3 separate regions of the Homo sapiens genome follow, and all the other regions are linked to region 2. Evidence: fine-mapped expression QTL. A gene starts in region 2. Each other region holds a variant in brackets. All regions are shown on one strand. Distances are from middle to middle. Region 1 overlaps CFAP46 (cilia and flagella associated protein 46). Region 2 holds the start of CFAP46 (cilia and flagella associated protein 46). Region 3 overlaps ADGRA1 (adhesion G protein-coupled receptor A1).

Region 1 (5,550 bases), 32 kb before region 2:
TGGCCTTTGATGGCCTTTGAGGGGGGTTGGATCATGGGGATGGAGCCCTCACAAACAGGGTTAGTCCCTTATGAAAGGGACCCCAGAGAGCCCTGCCCCTTCCCGCATGTGAGGACACAGCGGGAGGCGCCGTCTGTGAGACAGGAAGGGGCCCTCGCAGACGCCGAATCTGCCACACCTCGATGGCACTTCCAGCCTCCGGAACTGTGAGCAGGAACCATCTGGGGTGGGAGCCCCCCGGTCTGTGGCCCTTTGTCCCAGCCTCTGAAGGCTGAGGCCCCCCCTTTCTGTGCCTACAATGCACACGCGGCCAGCAGGCCACACACCCCTCCTGCTGAGGCCCACGTGACTTCAGAATCCTTCCTGACCAGCTTTCCACGGGGCCACTGCTGACTTGTCCATGAGGGCACGGGGCCGGCAGGACGGAGGCTGCCTGTGCACATGGCTGAGGCCTGTGGGAAGCTTTCTGGACTGGGCCTGGAGACCTGGTGGAGTGCTCACCTGCTCCCTGATCTGTGATCGCCGCCCAGGCCCGCGCTCCCTGCCCGTTTTGGGGACCTGGTGGGGCGCTCACACGCGCCCTGATCTGTGATCGCGGCCCAGGCCCGCGCTCCCTGCCCGTTTTGGGGAACTGGTGGGGCGCTCACCTGCTCCCTGATCTGTGATTGAGGCCCAGGCCTGCGCTCCCTGCCCGTTTTGAGGGAATTTGTCCAGTCATGAGGGTTACTTACGGCCCAAATTTCTTCAGGTACTTGATGCCCATCTCCAGAGCCCTGTGAGCACAGGCCATGGTGGTCTCATGGTCACGCGCTGCATGGGCGAAGTGGGTCAGCCGCGTCAGGGTCTGCAGCTCCACCAGGGGGTCCGACCAGTTGCACTCGGAAGCCATTTTCACCAACTTCCGGTGGGTGGCAAGAGAAGGGGCACCGTGTTAGCAACAACGAACTTCCCACGGCCTGCAGCCCCCACGGACCACGCAGCGCATGTGATCCTAAGCAGAGGCGTGGCCTGTGAAGGGCCACCGTGCCACAAAAGCTGAGCTGCCACGTCCGTGCCTGTGAGGACCCCTGATGTCCTTGTAGCTCCCACACCCCACAGGGTGTCCTGGACACGGGACTGGCGTGTGCAGCCCTTGGCTGCCCCTGAGCGGCTCAGGGTTGGGTGGGAATGGAGGGTCCGCTCAAACAGCGTTTGCCTCGCACCAGGAGACAGGGATGCTCTGAGCATGGAGCTGAAGGAAGTGCGTCGAGGGGGCGCAGCTCCGTTGGGAGGTGGGGGAGAGCGGGGCAGAGTGGGGGTGAGCATGCACGATGGGGCTCGAGTTCCAGCCACCTAGGGCAAGAGCCTCGGCGTCCTCGCCTCTTGGCCCCTGGCCTCCCGGGACCCCTGGGGACACCTACCTGGGCCAGGGAGGGGACAGTGAAGTCCATGAGGCCCAGCCCGTTGCATGAGTACATTTCCAAGGCAACGAGGACTCTGGTCACCGAGCTGACATCCTCATTGGTGCCCTGGTGGGGAGGATGCCCTGAGTGTATCAGCCCAAGCGTGCGGGGGGAGTCTGGAATATGCGTGAATTTAACACTGCAAGGTATTAGTTTTATGGCAATAATCAGACCACAAAATTGGGAGCGTTTATACCTTAGGCTGTTTTTGTAACTGTTGACCTGCAGGTCATCTTCTCATACAACGAGGAGCCCCAAGTCCGTGCGGCCCCCATGTGTGAGGCAGCCTTGTCTGAAGGCTGGGTGACCCCCGAGGAGGGAAGGACCAGTGGGCCTGACATGGTGGCTGCTGGGGCAGGCAGGTCAACACCTGGACCCTCCCCGCCTCCCTGGGCCCCACTAGGGCCTGGCTCCTGGCCAGGCTCCAAGGCCCCTCCTCCATCTGGCTTTCCAGGAGCTCATGGGGCCGGCCCTGGGCCCACTCCTCCTTGGGAGAGCGCAGCACCCCCACAGGCCCAGCAGCTCACAGACCCCGTGGACGGGTGGGCAGAGGAGGCCCCGTGCCACACTCAAGGGCAGCCAGCGGCGGTGAGCTCAGTGGGAAAAGGGAGTGCCCAGGCCATCCGTGATGGCTCCATCTGGAGCTAAGTGGTCCCGGGGGCCCCACCACCCCCGGCTGTCTCAGATCTCTATGTCCACAGGGCCTCAGTCAGAGCCCAGATGTGGGCAGGGGCGCCCACCTGCTCCTCGGTGCCCAGCCGTGGCCCAATCTGCTGCTGCAGCAGCTGCTTGGCCTTGACCCAGGTGGCGATAAGCTGCTGCCGGGTGCCGGTGGGCACCGTCTCCTCGGGCGCACTCCCATTGGTCAGGTTCAGGGCAAACTCGCAGACCTAGGACAGACGTGTTCTCGGTCACGAAACCTGAATTCTAAACAGGGGACCTTGAGCCAAGATCCGAACCATTAAAAGATGGATGGAGCCCGCTCCTGATCCAGCCCGTGAAGGGCCTTAAACACGAGACCTCAGGCCCACCAGCGGCTGCACCACAAACCCAGCAGATGAAGCCCCACCCCCAGACGCCGAGGACGCAGCTGCCACCTGGCCTCCAGTGCGCCCCGGCCCTCACTCCTGAGCTGTCCCCACGGCATGGGCCTGGGACCCCGCAGGAAGGAGCAGCTGAGCCAGCACCCCTCCCCCACTGCAGCTGGTATCGGTTGGGGGTGGGGCAGCAAGGACGGAGCCCCGAAAGTGGGGGCGTGAAATCTGCCACGTGCTTTGCCTGCAGTGACGGGCATGTGGGCTGCTGCCCTGAGCCCCTGGGCTGCGCCCCAGCTCCCTGTCTTGCTGGCCGTGTGACCAGGTGAGTTTCTTCATGCTGTGCGCCTCAGTTTCCTCATCTCTATGTAGAAATGAAACCCAGTCTATGGGTCGTCGTGAGGATCGGTGAGTCCTTGTTCAGAGCCTCGCCCGGTGCAGGAAGCACTGGCCACCGGGAGTGACCTCTTGCTAACCCAGGGATGTCCCATCTCTCGCTGCCTTGTGAACACCTGCTCCTTGCAAAACGTCTTGGTAGCACAGACACCTACTGGGCAGCGTCCTTCCCTTTCCTCCCCTCCATCCTTCCTTCTGGATAAACTTCCAAACATTTGTCAAGTTCCACACAGCCATCCCATCGGAATGTGTTTGGGGAGCACTCACTCCCCTGTTCACCACCTGACTCCCCGTGCGGTTGTGCACATGCCCAGTCCAGGCACCGCCCAAGCCGGCTTCCTCACACTCTCCGCCATTCACTCCGTGTTCCCGGGCTGCCAAGTCGGTGCTGGCATTTCCTCTCAGCATCTGGATCCAGCCATCATCACATCTAAGAGGGAAGCTCCTCTGCACCCCCCAGCTGCCTCCC[A/G]GGGCCCACAGCAGGCTCAGCTGCACCCACAGCTGCCTGAGCCGCCCACGGCGCCCTCCCCTCCGCAGCCTCCAGCCTGATCCCTGTAGGTCCCCGGAGCCGGCCCCTTGTCCCTTCTCGGAAGAACGACCTGCACCTGATGCCACAGCCGGTGTTCCTGGCCGGCCCACACTGACTGCCCAGGGCCAGCCGTCCCCACTGGGAGCTGGGAGCACTAGGGCCCTCTCTGGCTCTGGCCTGGCGCAGCTGACTGTGAGCGTTGTGAGTGCCGGGCCGCAGGCTCAAGACTCTCCAGCCCGCGGTTTTATCCATGGCCCAGAAAGGGTCATGCAGGATGAGCTTTAGCACAAAGTCTTCCGCAAGGGTGGGGACAGCTCCCCCGCCCCGTGCCCCTGCGGAGACACTCAAGGCCTCCCTGCCCCCGCCCCACCGCGGGTGCTCCACACACAGGCTCCAGGAGGTTCCCCACAGACTCCCTTGACTCATTAGGAAACCGGCTTTCTCTCGGGTTCTTTGAGGCTCTTCTGAGTTAGAAATGGGCAATGGCTCATCAAACACTTCTGCAGCATCTGTCAACGAGAACACTATTTCTTTTCCCTTCCTTTTGGATTACAACAAAATCCACATTCCATGGGATAAATGATCCGCCTGGGCCACCAGGATCGTCCCACACACTGGGTCTGCTGCATTTTACTGGGACGGCTGCATGTGTGGGTGGTGTGGTCCCTGTTTCTCGCCGTTCCAATCCGCCGTTTCTGGTTCTATTTCCACTCTCCTCTAGGCCTGGAGCCCGCCCTGAGGGGAGGCCTCACACCCACCCACGGGTCTTGTTTTCCTCTCTCCAGCCCTGGCCTTATTTCCCAGTAACTGGAGCCCCTGACGTTTTACTTCCTAGATTGTTCTCACGTCTGTCGCCTCCACTGAAGGCAGTTTGCTCTCCCAGGGCCTTTCCAGGAGCCTTCAGAAGCTCAGCCCCAGCCTCCAGCTACAGGTCTGCAGGGCTCTGTCTCAGGTCAGCTGCCTCCCTGCTCTCTCCCTCCACCCCCACCCCCCCACCCCCACATCTCTCTCTCTCTCCTCTCTCTCTTCTCTCTCCTCCTCTCTCCTGTCCTCTTTCCTCTCTCTCTCTTCCCTCTCCTCTCTCTTCTCCTCTCTCCTGTCCTCTTTCCTCTCTCTCTCTTCCCTCTCCTCTCTCTTCTCCTCTCTCCTCCTCTCTCTCTCCTCTCTTTCTCCTGTCTCTTCTCCTCTCTTCTTCTCTCTCTCCTGTCTCTTCTCCTCTCTTTCTCCTCTCTTCTCTCTGCTTCTCTCGCCTCTCTCTCCTCTCCTCTCTCTGCTCATCTCTCTCTCTCACCTCCCTCTCTCCTCTCCTCTCTCTCTCTCTTCACCTCTCTCTCTCTTCACATCTCTCTCTCCTCTTTCACCTCTCTCTCCTCTCCTCTCTCTCTCTTCACCTCTCTCCTCTCCTCTCTCTCTCTCTTCACCTCTCTCCTCTTTCACCTCTCCTCTCCTCTCTCTCTCTCCTCTCTCCTCTCTCTCTCTCTCTCTCTCTCTCTCTCTCGGCATCATGGAGGTGGTACCTCCACCGCTGTTTTGATCTCGGAAGTGGCTCCTGCGTCCAGTGGGCTGTGAAACGCGTTTGGTCGCATGAATTTCCTGGACTTCTCGGCAGCCTGGACTGGAATCCAGCTGATGATCAGGCCTCGCGCCAAGGTGTTGCAGAGCGTCACCAGCATCACGGGGTCCCTGGGAGACATGCTTGTCAGAGGGAACCTTGGCCCCCGCAGGCCTCGCCCCGATCCCATGTGCTGAGTCCTCAGGTCACGGTAAGAGGCCTGAGATGCACGGGTGCCCACGACCCTCCTCTGCTGGGACACAGAGGGCCATGGAGTGCAGCTGCCTGCCTTTGCTCTGGGGTCTCCCAAGGGAAGAAGCCCCTCCCTGCGTGAACGCAGCACAGCCCACACGCACCCACTGTGGCCTGTGGCCTTAACGATGCTCAGGAGGTGGTACAGGGCGTCCACCAGCTCCTTCTGCCGCCCGGCCAGGATCAGGTGGTGGTTGTGGTTCAGGACGTAGACCACGGCGTTCTGCACAATCCACGCCTCCTGGATCTCCTGTCCGATCTCTGCGGAGCGCAGCCAGTTATTCATGGCACACCGGGACAGACTCTCGATCCAGGTTCTGCAAAACGAGCACCACCAAGCCCTTA
Region 2 (5,550 bases):
CAGGAGAGGAGCGGAGGTGCGGGGTGTCCTGACCAGACGGTCACGCCTGCTTGAGTCAGAGGGGTCATCATGGGACTCCAGCGGCCTGCTGCGTCTCCCTGAGTGCTGCGTCTCCCTGAGTGCTGCGTCTCGAAAGGAACCCGTCTCCTCCCTGTAAGTGGCTCTCCCCAAATTCCCACTGTGGCCTCCACATGCCCGTGGTTGGGCTCACAGTCTCCTGTCCCACTGACACTGCCCTGGACAAGCCAGCGCTGCCCTCTCTCTCCACACAACCTGGACCCTTCCCAAAGATGGTCCTGACCTCTGGCAAGGCTCTGTCACCCCCTGACCCGTCCACAGTGCCCCTGAGGGCCCTGGAGCAGAGCAGCCTCCTTCCCATGGTACCCACCACTCCCGCGTCACAGCACCCTTGGAAATACCCCTTGTCTTTAGAATCTGTGGCTTGAGGTGGGGCCTCCCCGTCCCTGTCCCCATGCAGAGAGGATCTGTGGGGCTGGGCCCTACATCCCCAGCACTTGCAACAGGGTGTGACCAGAGAAGGCCACCAGCAGACAAGCAGGCCGATGTGGGTAGAACAGACCAGGGAACCCACAGCTTCTATTTAAATATCCTCCAAACATTGTATCCTATTTGAATATGTGATATATGTTCAAGCAAATATGCTTGAAACTGTCAAGCTTGCACAAAACTGATTTGAATAGGATATGAATCAGTTTTGTGCAAGCTTAACAGTTTGAAGCATGATATTTGTTTTTGTGCAGAAAGCACTGATTTTGTAGAAAGTGCTGGAGTCGCCTCCGCAGGGACAGCGGCCTTGGCCAAGTTGTCCGCTAGGGAGCAGCAAAGGCACGCTGGGCCGAAGAAGGAACCGTGGGGAAGGAGAAGGCGCCCTGGGGGTGCGCCCGGGGAGGCCCTGGAGAAAACAGACTCTTTTTTTTTTTTTATTGATACAGAGTCTCGCTGTCATCCAGGCTGGAGTGCAGTGGCGTGATCTGGGCTCACTGCAACCTCCGCCTCCCGAGTTCAAGTGATTCTCCTGCCTCAGCCTCCCCAGCAGTTGGGATTACAGGCATGTGCCACCACGCCCGGCAGAAAACAGACTCTTCACAGCCATCTAAAATCACGAAAACCGCCGAGTGCAAAAGAGGCTGTTACTCGGAATTCGGCATGAATGTGGCCTGTCCACACGCTGACGAGATGAGGGAGTGATCACACGTGCATGAAAATCACAGACCACAAACGAGGGGAAACCCCACAGTTCAAATAAATACACCCACTTGATAAGTTCTGGCTCTGAAGTCTTTCACCCAGTCAGTGAGAAACGGCCACTTCAATTTTGCCTACCTCGGTTCTCCTTTGGCAAAGTTTATGGCCTTCATGTACTCAGTCACGCAATTTTCAAATTCCTCCTAAGGCAACATAAAGAAGCACAATTAGACCGAAATACTGACCCCTGCTCACTGCCCCATCTGCGGATGCCACGGCTCCCTCACGGTTGGCCTGGTACCCCCTGTGTGTCACCTGTGTATCCACAGGTGACGGTGTGGCAGACACAGCCTGAGTGTCGTGGCGAGGTCCTGGACCTGCACCCGGGTTCCCGTCCCGCAGACACAGCGAGGCAGCAGAAACCGCAGTGCCTGTGCTCCAGCACGCCCGCCCCACCCCAGCTCCCCTGTGCCCACTCGGGGCAGCTGCAGGCGCAGATGCCACAGAGACCACGCTGCTACGAGGCAAAGGTCCAGGGGTCCTGTGTGTCAGATATCACCACTTGAGCAAAAAGCATGGACAGGAAATGGTGCAAGTTTCGTGTCACTCTGGAAAGGAATTCCTTCACTCTACTACCCTAAGAACGATTTTAAGCCTGGTCTAGCCTGGCATTGCTCTGGAGATGGGGTGAAAATTGAACTGTTGGGGATAAGGGGCACAGGACGCCTCTCACCAGGTTTTCTGCCGACTTCGGGGCACACATCTGGGCCCTGCACAGGTGCGCTCGGCCCAGAAACTGGGTGATGGGCGCCTTCACCTTGAAGTACATTTGGATGCAGTCCTCGCTCACCTCTGGCTGCCTCATCTGCAAGAGAACACCACCACAGAAGATCACAGACCCGGAGGGGTGGCCTCCCTGCCCAGAAGCACCACGGGCCCGCTTTCAGAACAGGCCCCCAGCACAGGTGGAGCCTGTTTCCAGCCCCATCCTCCATCCTGGCCCCTTGACTGCCCGGCCAGGAGCTGCCTCTCCCCAGCCCCACTCTGCATCCGCTGCACACCCAGAGGCCCTCCCTCTCCCTGTCAAAGCTGCCCTGACCGAGGATCCCGGGAACTAGTTACCTTCAGGGCCTGCTCTGCACACAGAACAAACAGGTCTGGGCTGAAGCTCTCTGAGGGGTCAAACTCCGATTTCCCTAGGTTGGCCGATTTGATCAACTCGTAGGCCTTCTTCAAGGACGCAGCATCTGTCCCAAACGGGTGGTTGAGGAAGGTTTGGTCACTGGGCTGGGAGAAGTGAGCCGGGCAACGCCATCCCGAAGGCCCCAGGCAGCCGCCTTGGGCCCCCGGGCCACAGCCACCGTCAGAACCTGTCGCCGCCAGGGAGCAGCGGTGTGGGCGCCTTCCTGTACGTTTGCTCTGGTCAGACGATCGGGAGGTGGGGGCTCCGGCTGTGGCCCTCGAGGGATCACCCATTGGGCGGGCTGGGATGAGAGGGTCCGGGGCCTCCCCGGGGCGGGGGTCGTGGCGGGTCCCGGGGCCTCCCCGGGGCGGGGGTCGTGGCGGGCCTGGGGTCACCTTGCTGGCTCTCGGCGCGGGCCAGCTCCTGCGTGATGACCAGGTCCATGGCGCCGGCGCCCTGCTCGTCCGCTCTCTCCGGGGTCCGCGGTGCGTCCTGCCGCCCACTGTCGGTTGGGTTCTCCAGCCGCGAGGACCCGGCCACGGTTGCCTGGAGACCGAAAGGGACGCGGACGCGGGGCTACGGGTCGGCGGCGGGGCCACACTTCGGGGAAGGCGAACAACGCCGCGCCCCCGCCCTGCCCCCCGCCAGCTCCGCGGGAGTGAGACACCAGGGCAGCGACCCCCGGCGAGGGGCGGGAAGAAGAAAGGGGAGGGAAGGCGGCGTGGGGGGACGCCGGGGGCTCCGCGCGGGCCTCCTCTCCCCGCTCAGGGCTCCTGTGTGCCCGGGTTCTGGTCCTGACCCCGGGCTCACCCTCCACCTTCCCCGGGAACTTCCGACTGCGTCCTTCGCGCCTGCGCTCGTCGGCTCATTCATTCATTCATTCATTCATTCATTCATTCATTCATTCATCCATTCAGTCAGTCAGTCAGTCAGTCAGTCAGTCATTCCTTCATTCTTTCGTTCTTTCATTCATTCCGTCATTACTTTAACAGGCGGTGATTTGCCCCTGCCACGGTGCTGGAAGTGCAGCGGGCACAGAAAGTCGCGCAGTGGAAATGCGGGCTGCGGGCGTGGATGGGGCCGCCGGGTCTGGGGACGAGCTAAGACCTGGCAGCAGGGGGTGGCCGAGGCGGGAGGAGCAGACGCAGAGCCCCGGCCCCCACGGAGAGGGTAGCAGCGCAGCCACCTGCCCCCCGGGGCTCCCCACCTCCCAGCCGGGGCTGCTTTCCGGCCGGGGTCCGGACGGCGCCTACGACCGACCCGAATTGGAGGCTTGGCGGGGCGCGCAGCCCCCGCGCGGGGAAGCCGGAGCCACTGAAGGACTTGGGTCGGCCTGGGGAGGGGAGGGCCCGGGACTCACCCCGGGGTGGGCACACTAGGGGAGCTCTAGGGGAGGCCCACCTGGGGTAGGCCCACCTGGGAGAGGACCCCCTGGGAGAGGCCCACCCACGAGAGTCCCACGTGGGAGAGTGGAATTCCACCCGGGAGAGGCCCACCTGGGAGAGGACCCCCTGAGAGAGGACCGCCTGGGAGAGGCCCACCTGGGAGAGTGGAATTCCACCCGGGAGAGGCCCACCTGGGAGAGGACCCCCTGAGAGAGGACCGCCTGGGAGAGGCCCACCTGGGAGAGTGGAATTCCACCCAGGAGAGGCCCACCTGGGAGAGAACCCCCTGAGAGAGGACCGCCTGGGAGAGGCCCACCTGGGAGAGTGGAATTCCACCCGGGAGAGGCCACCATACCTACATGGGATCAAATAAGCTGCCTGGACATAGTTTTGAAACCTGAACGTCGTATGTTTCTCAGGCTCCTAGAGCCCCACCCCGTCTTGAAGTTGGCAGCCTCAGATCCCTGCTAAATGACCATATTCCTTCCCAAAGACAGTTCTCAGATGGGCCTTTGTTGGTAAAGACACTCCACACATGGGTACAGCCTCGATAAAATATTTATCCCCTCAGAGAAAGTATATCCAAACATAATGTAGTAAGAGATTTCCCAAATCCAAGGGCATTAAATATTAAAACTCAGTTTTCTAGTTACACATTAGCCTTAAATATCAAGAGTGCAACACAAAATTATCACAGAACGCAGGAAAAGGAGATGAGAAAGGCCGCAGATGGGCAGCCAGGTGGGCCGGGGCACAGGGCAGGGTCGGAAAGGGTCCCCAGCCCAGGAGCTTCTGTGTCCGTGGAGTGGGGGGCACCACCCTCCTGGCCCGTGGATGTGTTCAGCAACCTGGAACTGCTCGGGACCCATAGTCCAGGCATTCTTATGGAGGCTCCATCGCAGACATGAAGGATGATGGTGGATGATCCCTGGAGGAGGGTGGGTGCAGGGTTGAGAGCTGCAGGTGCTAATCCTGGCTGGTCTCTCTGGTGACTGGACCCCCTCCAGGAGCCACCAAGCCTCACCTCATTTGAATGGAAGAATCTGCTGCCATCACCCAGGAAATTCGAGGGCTTTTGGAGCCCTGTGCGGGGTCTCGGGAGCAGAGACCAGATCTATTCATTTCTCATTTCATCACCCCATCTTGCCAGGTAGAGACGGTGTCTGTGTCTGGGCTCCCAGGCTGGACCCCAGAGGCCTGCTGTATATGCGCCCGCTGGCGTTGCCATCACGGGGCACTCTCATGGGCGGCTTAAACAGCGGGAAAGGAGGCGGGAAGGCCGAGAACAAGGTGCGGCCGGAGTTGGTTCCTTGGAGGGCACCCCGCGTGGCCGTATGTGGTCGTCTTCTTGTCTGTGTCTCGGTGTCCAAATGTGCCCATCTTATATGGACACCAGCCATGGGGTTTAGGGCCCACCCTGGGACCTCCTGTTAAATAGATCACCTCTGTGAAGACCCTGTCTCCAAATAAGGCCACATTCTGAGGCCGTGGGACTAGGACTCCAGCATAAGAGTTTCAGGGGGACACAGTTCAATCCATGACACTTGCTTAACCAGAAGGTGGTGAGAATTCTGAACATTTGTAATTTCATCAGGTGAAAGCCAGGAAGATGGGTGAATTGTTGTTTAAAACATCTCAGAATATATACATGAGCAGAATGAGCAGAACAGAAGTTAAAGATAGAGCTTCTTCCAGCGCAGGTGAGGCCAGTAATCAAATCCCACTGGTGTGTATGTCCGTAAAAGAGAACTTAGTTGAAATCGACCTGGCATCCCA
Region 3 (5,550 bases), 170 kb after region 2:
ATGAAAAACATTTTTTCATTTCTTTTCTGTGATTTGGGTACAGCAGAGGGGTGTGAGGGAGTGGGTGACCCTGCACATCCTGCTGTGTGGCCTGCCCTGGCCAGCCCAGCCTTCTTCCCTTTCTCCACATGTGAGGAGTGGAGTGGATGTGGGCACGAGGGGCCAGGGAGTGCCTCAAGGTTAGGCCTGGACCAGGCATCACACAGACCTCCCCGAGCACACCTGGGAGTGTGCAGGACCTGCTGCCCTGCTGGTGTCTTCAGTGCAGGCATGGTTGTAGGTTGTGTGTGAATCTGGTCCCTGGCCCCAGAGCTCTGCCTCGGGGCCTCCTGTGGGTGAGAAACCACACAGAACCTGGCGTGAGCCTTTGGCCAACAGAAGTGTCACCCTCAGCCTTGTAGGGGAGAGTTTAGGAGAAGGACAGGTGCAGCCTCAACCGAGGAGTCCATGGACTCTTGGCACTGCTAAATGGGGCTAGGGTGACTCCGTGGAGAAGGAAGCAGGGAGGGACACCAGAAGGGAAGGAGGAAGAGGATTGGCAGGGAGGAGACAGAGGTGTTGGACACAGGACCCCCCAGGCCCACAGAGGCACCGGCTCAGCCACCCAACCCCTCACAGTGGTGCCTCCTTGGATTCAGGCACCCTCACCTTTGACCAACATGGTGGCCACTGTCACCTCCCAATACTCTCAAGATTCTAGACACTAGACTCTGTTGCAAGACTCTGTTGCCAGTCCACAAAACACCATTTGCAGTCTGCCCACCAGTCCTGACCACTACACACATTTGCCGCAGCCTCCTGATGCCTCCCTCAGATATCCCAAGACAGCTCAATACTGGGTGCATGTGGCCCCAGCTCCACCCCTCCCCTCACATCCTCCATGGTCCCAGCTCCACTCGGCCCCAGCTCCACCCCTCCCCTCATGTCCTCCATGGTCCCAGCTCCACTTGGCCCCAGCTCCACCCCTCCCCTCATGTCCTCCATGGTCCCAGCTCCACTCGGCCCCAGCTCCACCCGTCCCCTCATGTCCTCCACGGTCCCAGCTCCACTTAGCCCCAGCTCCACCCGTCCATCAGTCCCACAAAGGAACCAGCTCCACTTGGCCCCAGCTCCACCCCTCCCCTCATGTCCTCCATGGCCCCGGCCCCACCCCTGCCCCTCATATCCTCCATGGAACCAGCTCCACCCCCACAATGTCTTTGCAGCTCAGCAGCAGCACTGCTCTCCCAGCATTCGTGTCTGGGTGCTAGACATTTTGCCAAACTCTCTACCCCCTTTCCCAGATCAGGCCACACCTCCAGGCCCAGGAGTCTTCCCCACCTTTCCTGTCCCTCCTCCTCTCCCAGCCCCCGCTCCCTGGACCTCATCTTTCCTGCTCTGTGGACTGCCCTGACCCCAGCGGGCCTCCAGGTCCCTTTCTCAGCCTCCTGCTCTGCCACCTCCACACCACCTGGATACTTTTTCTCCCCAGCTGGAAGCCTGACTGCTTGCCCCCACGACCACTCCCCAGACCCCCCATTGCTGCTCAGCTGTGGCTCAGAGCCTTCCTGTCTGCCCCTTCCTGGCCTCACCTGCCCTTTGAGCACTGAGGGTCGGTCCCTCCAGTGGGATGGTTACCTCCCGTCTCCATTCCAGCCTCCTCCCTGCACCTCAGCTTCCTCTTAAGTGAGACCCCGACCTTCTGCCCGGTGCCCACCTCCTATTGCAGAGCAACTGTCCCCTGACCTCTCCTCCCCTCGATGACAATGACGGGAAGGTCCCTCCTGGTTCATATTCTCCAGGCTTGGCATCCAGCCCCTCCTGATTAAATGTTGAAACCAGAAAGAGACAAACGGCAGGGATGTAGTAAATATGTGTGAAATCGGCCTCCAGGCTCAGCTGGGCTGGATGTGTCGATGGAAAGCAATCAGTTTCATACTTTGTTCTGAGGCTTGGGTGAGCAGCACACTGCCCGTCATGCAGTGTCAGGCCCCACGGCCTCTGCACACTCAGGGCGGGGCTGGAAGGACTCGGGACTCAGCAGTGGTGGCATTCCTGGGTGTGGTTTGTCTCCACAGAAAGATACACTCAGGGAGGGGCTGGAAGATACACTCAGGACTCAGCAGCGGCGGCGTTCCTGGGTGTGGTTTGTCTCCACAGAAGGATACACCACAGGGCCAACGAGGGAAAAGACATCCAGCAGGGTCCAAGACTCCAGGTGCCGTCTCCAAAGTTCTCCTGTCCTGGGAGACGGCAGGTGGGGAGGATCCACACGGAACCTGCTCCTTCCTCCAGCAGCAAAATGCAGCAAAGTGTGCCCCGCACTTCTGCCCAGGAGGCCGCTCAGGCTCAAGCTCCGCATTCTTGCTGGGACAGGTCACTCCTGTGTGCTCTGCCAGCTCCGCTGGCCACAGCTACGGAGCCTCACACTCTGGCGGGAAGGCAGGTGCTGCCGTCAGTCATAAGGTTCATGCAAACAGCCCAGGCTGCTGTAGTGCCACATCCTGCGTCCCTGCACACAGAGCAGCCTTATCAGGCAGT[G/GA]CGTGGGGAATGTGCTGAAAGCCACTGACCCAGGCACCTGCCACGCCCCAGAGCTGGCCCTTCTGCAGAGCAACACTGAGCTGCACAGGGTCGAATGTTCAGAGAGAAGCTCCTTGGATCTGCCATTTCTAACTATATGAGTGAGAAGAAAGAAAGCCTGAGAGAGAGAGAGTCGGTAAGAAATATAAAGAAATACTGGAAGAAAAAGAATAAGGGCAAATATTATGCACCCTGAGCTGACCCTTTGTACACAAAACAAAAGCCAGTGGTCTGATGCCCATGTCTGAACAATTAGCCTGCTTCCTCTATACCCATATCTCACAATCCAGATTTATTTTCCGGAATTCTGTTTTGACCTCTATTCAGCCTCTTCCCCTTCCTTGTCTTTAGTTTCCTGCCCAATCCCTTTGCCGCAGAGTGATGTCTGCATGGGGCCCTGGACACAGGTGCTGCTGGATAATTCAGTGATCCCAGGTCCCCAAGCACCTGCTCCAATGTGAGCACAGCCCACTGAAGGGTTGTTTCTGAATCTGTTAAGTGGAAATGTGGCTGAACTGGGGAGGTTCTGGGTAGGCTGGGCCACCTGCCCACCAGGGACACCTGCCCTCCTAATCCTGCCAAGCCACCTGCCTGCCATGGGCAGCTCCCCTCCTAATCCTGCTGGCCACCTGCCCGCCAGGGGTGCCTCCTCTCCTAATCCCACCAGACCACCTGCCCGCCGTGAGCACCTCCCTCCTAATCCCTCCAGACAACCTGCCCACCACAGGCACCTCCCTCCTAATCCCACCAGACAACCTGCCCACCACAGGCACCTCCCTCCTAATCCCACCAGACAACCTGCCCCCCCGGGAACCATCCCTCCTAATCCCACCAGACCACCTGCCCACCACAGGCACCTCCCTCCTAATCCCACCAGACAACCTGCCCACCACGGACACCTCCCTCCTAATCCCACCAGACAACCTGCCCACCACGGACACCTCCCTCCTAATCCCACCAGACAACCTGCCCACCACGGACACCTCCCTCCTAATCCCACCAGACAACCTGCCCACCACAGACACCTCCCTCCTAATCCCACCAGACAACCTGCCCACCACGGACACCTCCCTCCTAATCCCACCAGACAACCTGCCCACCACGGACACCTCCCTCCTAATCCCACCAGACAACCTGCCCACCACGGACACCTCCCTCCTAATCCCACCAGACAACCTGCCCCCCCGGGAACCATCCCTCCTAATCCCACCAGACCACCTGCCCGCCACGGGCACCTCCCTCCTAATCCCACCAGACAACCTGCCCGCCACAGACACCTCCCTCCTAATCCCTCCAGACCACCTGCCCACCACAGGCACCTCCCTCCTAATCCCACCAGACCACCTGCCCACCACGGGCACCTCCCTCCTAATCCCTCCAGACCACCTGCCCACCACAGACACCTCCCTCCTAATGCCTCCAGACCACCTGCCCGCCGTGAGCACCTCCCTCCTAATCCCTCCAGACCACCTGCCCACCACAGGCACCTCCCTCCTAATGCCTCCAGACCACCTGCCCACCACAGACACCTCCCTCCTAATGCCTCCAGACCACCTGCCTGCCATGGGCATCTCCCTCCTAATCCTGCTGGCCAGCCCACTTTGAGGAAGGGCCTCTAAGTAGACAGAACTTTCCACATTTTCTGCTCCCTTTGCCAGCCAAAAGGAAGACACTCCAGAAACAAGCAGACCTTTTGTGATTTCATAGGTGCTCGGGGGCTGATTCCCCATTTAGCCATGAATAATGACATCTTAATTTTGCAGTACGGCCACCCTTTCTGATCAAGTGCACCAAGCTGTGTCAGTTATTTGGGGTCTGCGGGCCGCATCGGTTATCTGGGGTCTGCAGGCTGCGTCAGTTATTTGGGGTCTGCGGGCCGTGTCGGTTATTTGGGGTCTACGGGCCGCGTCCGTTATTTGGGGTCTGCGGGCCATGTCGGTTATTTGGGGTCTACGGGCCACGTCAGTTATTTGGGGTCTGCGGGCCGCGTCGGTTATTTGGGGTCTGTAAGCAGTGTTGGTTATTTGGGGTCTGCAGGCCGCGTCGGTTATTTGAGGTCTGTGGGCCGCATCGGTTATTTGAGGTCTGCGGGCCGTGTCGGTTATTTGGAGTCTACGGGCTACGTCGGTTATTTGGGGTCTACGGGCCGCGTCCGTTATTTGGGGTCTGTGGGCCATGTCGGTTATTTGGGGTCTACGGGCCACGTCAGTTATTTGGGGTCTGCGGGCCGCGTCGGTTATTTGAGGTCTGCGGGCCGCGTCGGTTATTTGGGGTCTGTAAGCTATGTCGGTTATTTGGGGTCTGCGGGCCGTGTTGGTTCGGTTATTTGGGGTCTGTAAGCTGTGTTGGTTATTGGAGGTCTGCGGGCCACGTCGGTTATTTGGGGTCTGCGGGCCGCGTCAGTTCGGTTATTTGGGGTCTGTAAGCTGTGTCGGTTATTTGAGGTCTGCGGGCTGTGTCGGTTATTTGGGGTCTGCGGGCCGCGTCAGTTATTTGGGGTCTATAAGCTGTGTCAGTTATTTGGGGTCTGCGGGCCGCGTCAGTTATTTGGGGTCTATAAGCTGTGTCAGTTATTTGGGGTCTGCGGGCCGTGTCGGTTCGGTTATTTGGGGTCTGTAAGCTGTGTCGGTTATTTGAGGTCTGTGGGCCACGTCGGTTATTTGAGGTCTGTAAGCCGCGTCGGTTATTTGAGGTCTGTAAGCCGCGTCGGTTATTTGAGGTCTGCGGGCCGCGTCAGTTATTTGAGGTCTGTAAGCTGTGTCAGTTATTTGGGGTCTGTGGGCCGTGTTTCGGTTTGGAAGTCCAATGGCACCGCGGCACTTAGATTCCGTGTCACGGCCCGGCTTGCCGAGGATGCCTGCTCCCGCCTTCACCTGCCTCGCAGCCTCCCCAGTGCTGGCCAGGCGCTGAGGGATGCTTGACCCCACCCCATGGATGAGTGATTTCCTGGGGCTCCTTCAGCTGGGAACCCTCTCTAGGCCACAGGGCAAA

The links. PIP is the estimated chance that this variant, and not a neighbour inherited with it, causes the effect. A credible set is the group of variants that fine-mapping cannot tell apart.
Region 1: its variant is the best candidate, but not a certain one, in a credible set for the expression of CFAP46 in monocytes after Pam3CSK4 (Quach 2016, PIP 0.66).
Region 3: its variant is the best candidate, but not a certain one, in a credible set for the expression of CFAP46 in spleen (GTEx, PIP 0.51).

What each region holds. Positions count from the first base shown.
Region 1 is chr10:132,907,737-132,913,286 of GRCh38, forward strand. CFAP46 (cilia and flagella associated protein 46) reads right to left here. Exons shown (of 58, transcript NM_001200049.3): 18 at 5,310-5,522; 19 at 4,919-5,084; 20 at 2,183-2,332; 21 at 1,401-1,508; 22 at 732-898. Among named protein-coding and RNA genes, the nearest start is that of CFAP46, 32 kb to the right of the region's middle. RefSeq lists enhancers at 4,291-5,098, 5,099-5,550. The variant A/G (reference allele first, on the strand shown) is at 3,342.
Region 2 is chr10:132,939,652-132,945,201 of GRCh38, forward strand. CFAP46 (cilia and flagella associated protein 46) reads right to left here and starts at 2,919. Exons shown (of 58, transcript NM_001200049.3): 1 at 2,785-2,919; 2 at 2,329-2,453; 3 at 1,940-2,071; 4 at 1,345-1,409. The coding sequence starts at 2,833. LINC01166 (long intergenic non-protein coding RNA 1166) reads right to left here. Exons shown (of 2, transcript NR_120627.1): 2 at 4,316-5,550. It overlaps LOC105378572 (a long non-coding RNA gene), which reads left to right and starts at 3,716. Exons shown (of 3, transcript XR_007062348.1): 1 at 3,716-4,924; 2 at 5,369-5,474. RefSeq lists enhancers at 2,232-2,815, 2,816-3,399.
Region 3 is chr10:133,107,935-133,113,484 of GRCh38, forward strand. All of the region lies in intron 5 of ADGRA1 (adhesion G protein-coupled receptor A1), which reads left to right. Among named protein-coding and RNA genes, the nearest start is that of ADGRA1, 23 kb to the left of the region's middle. The variant G/GA (reference allele first, on the strand shown) is at 2,521.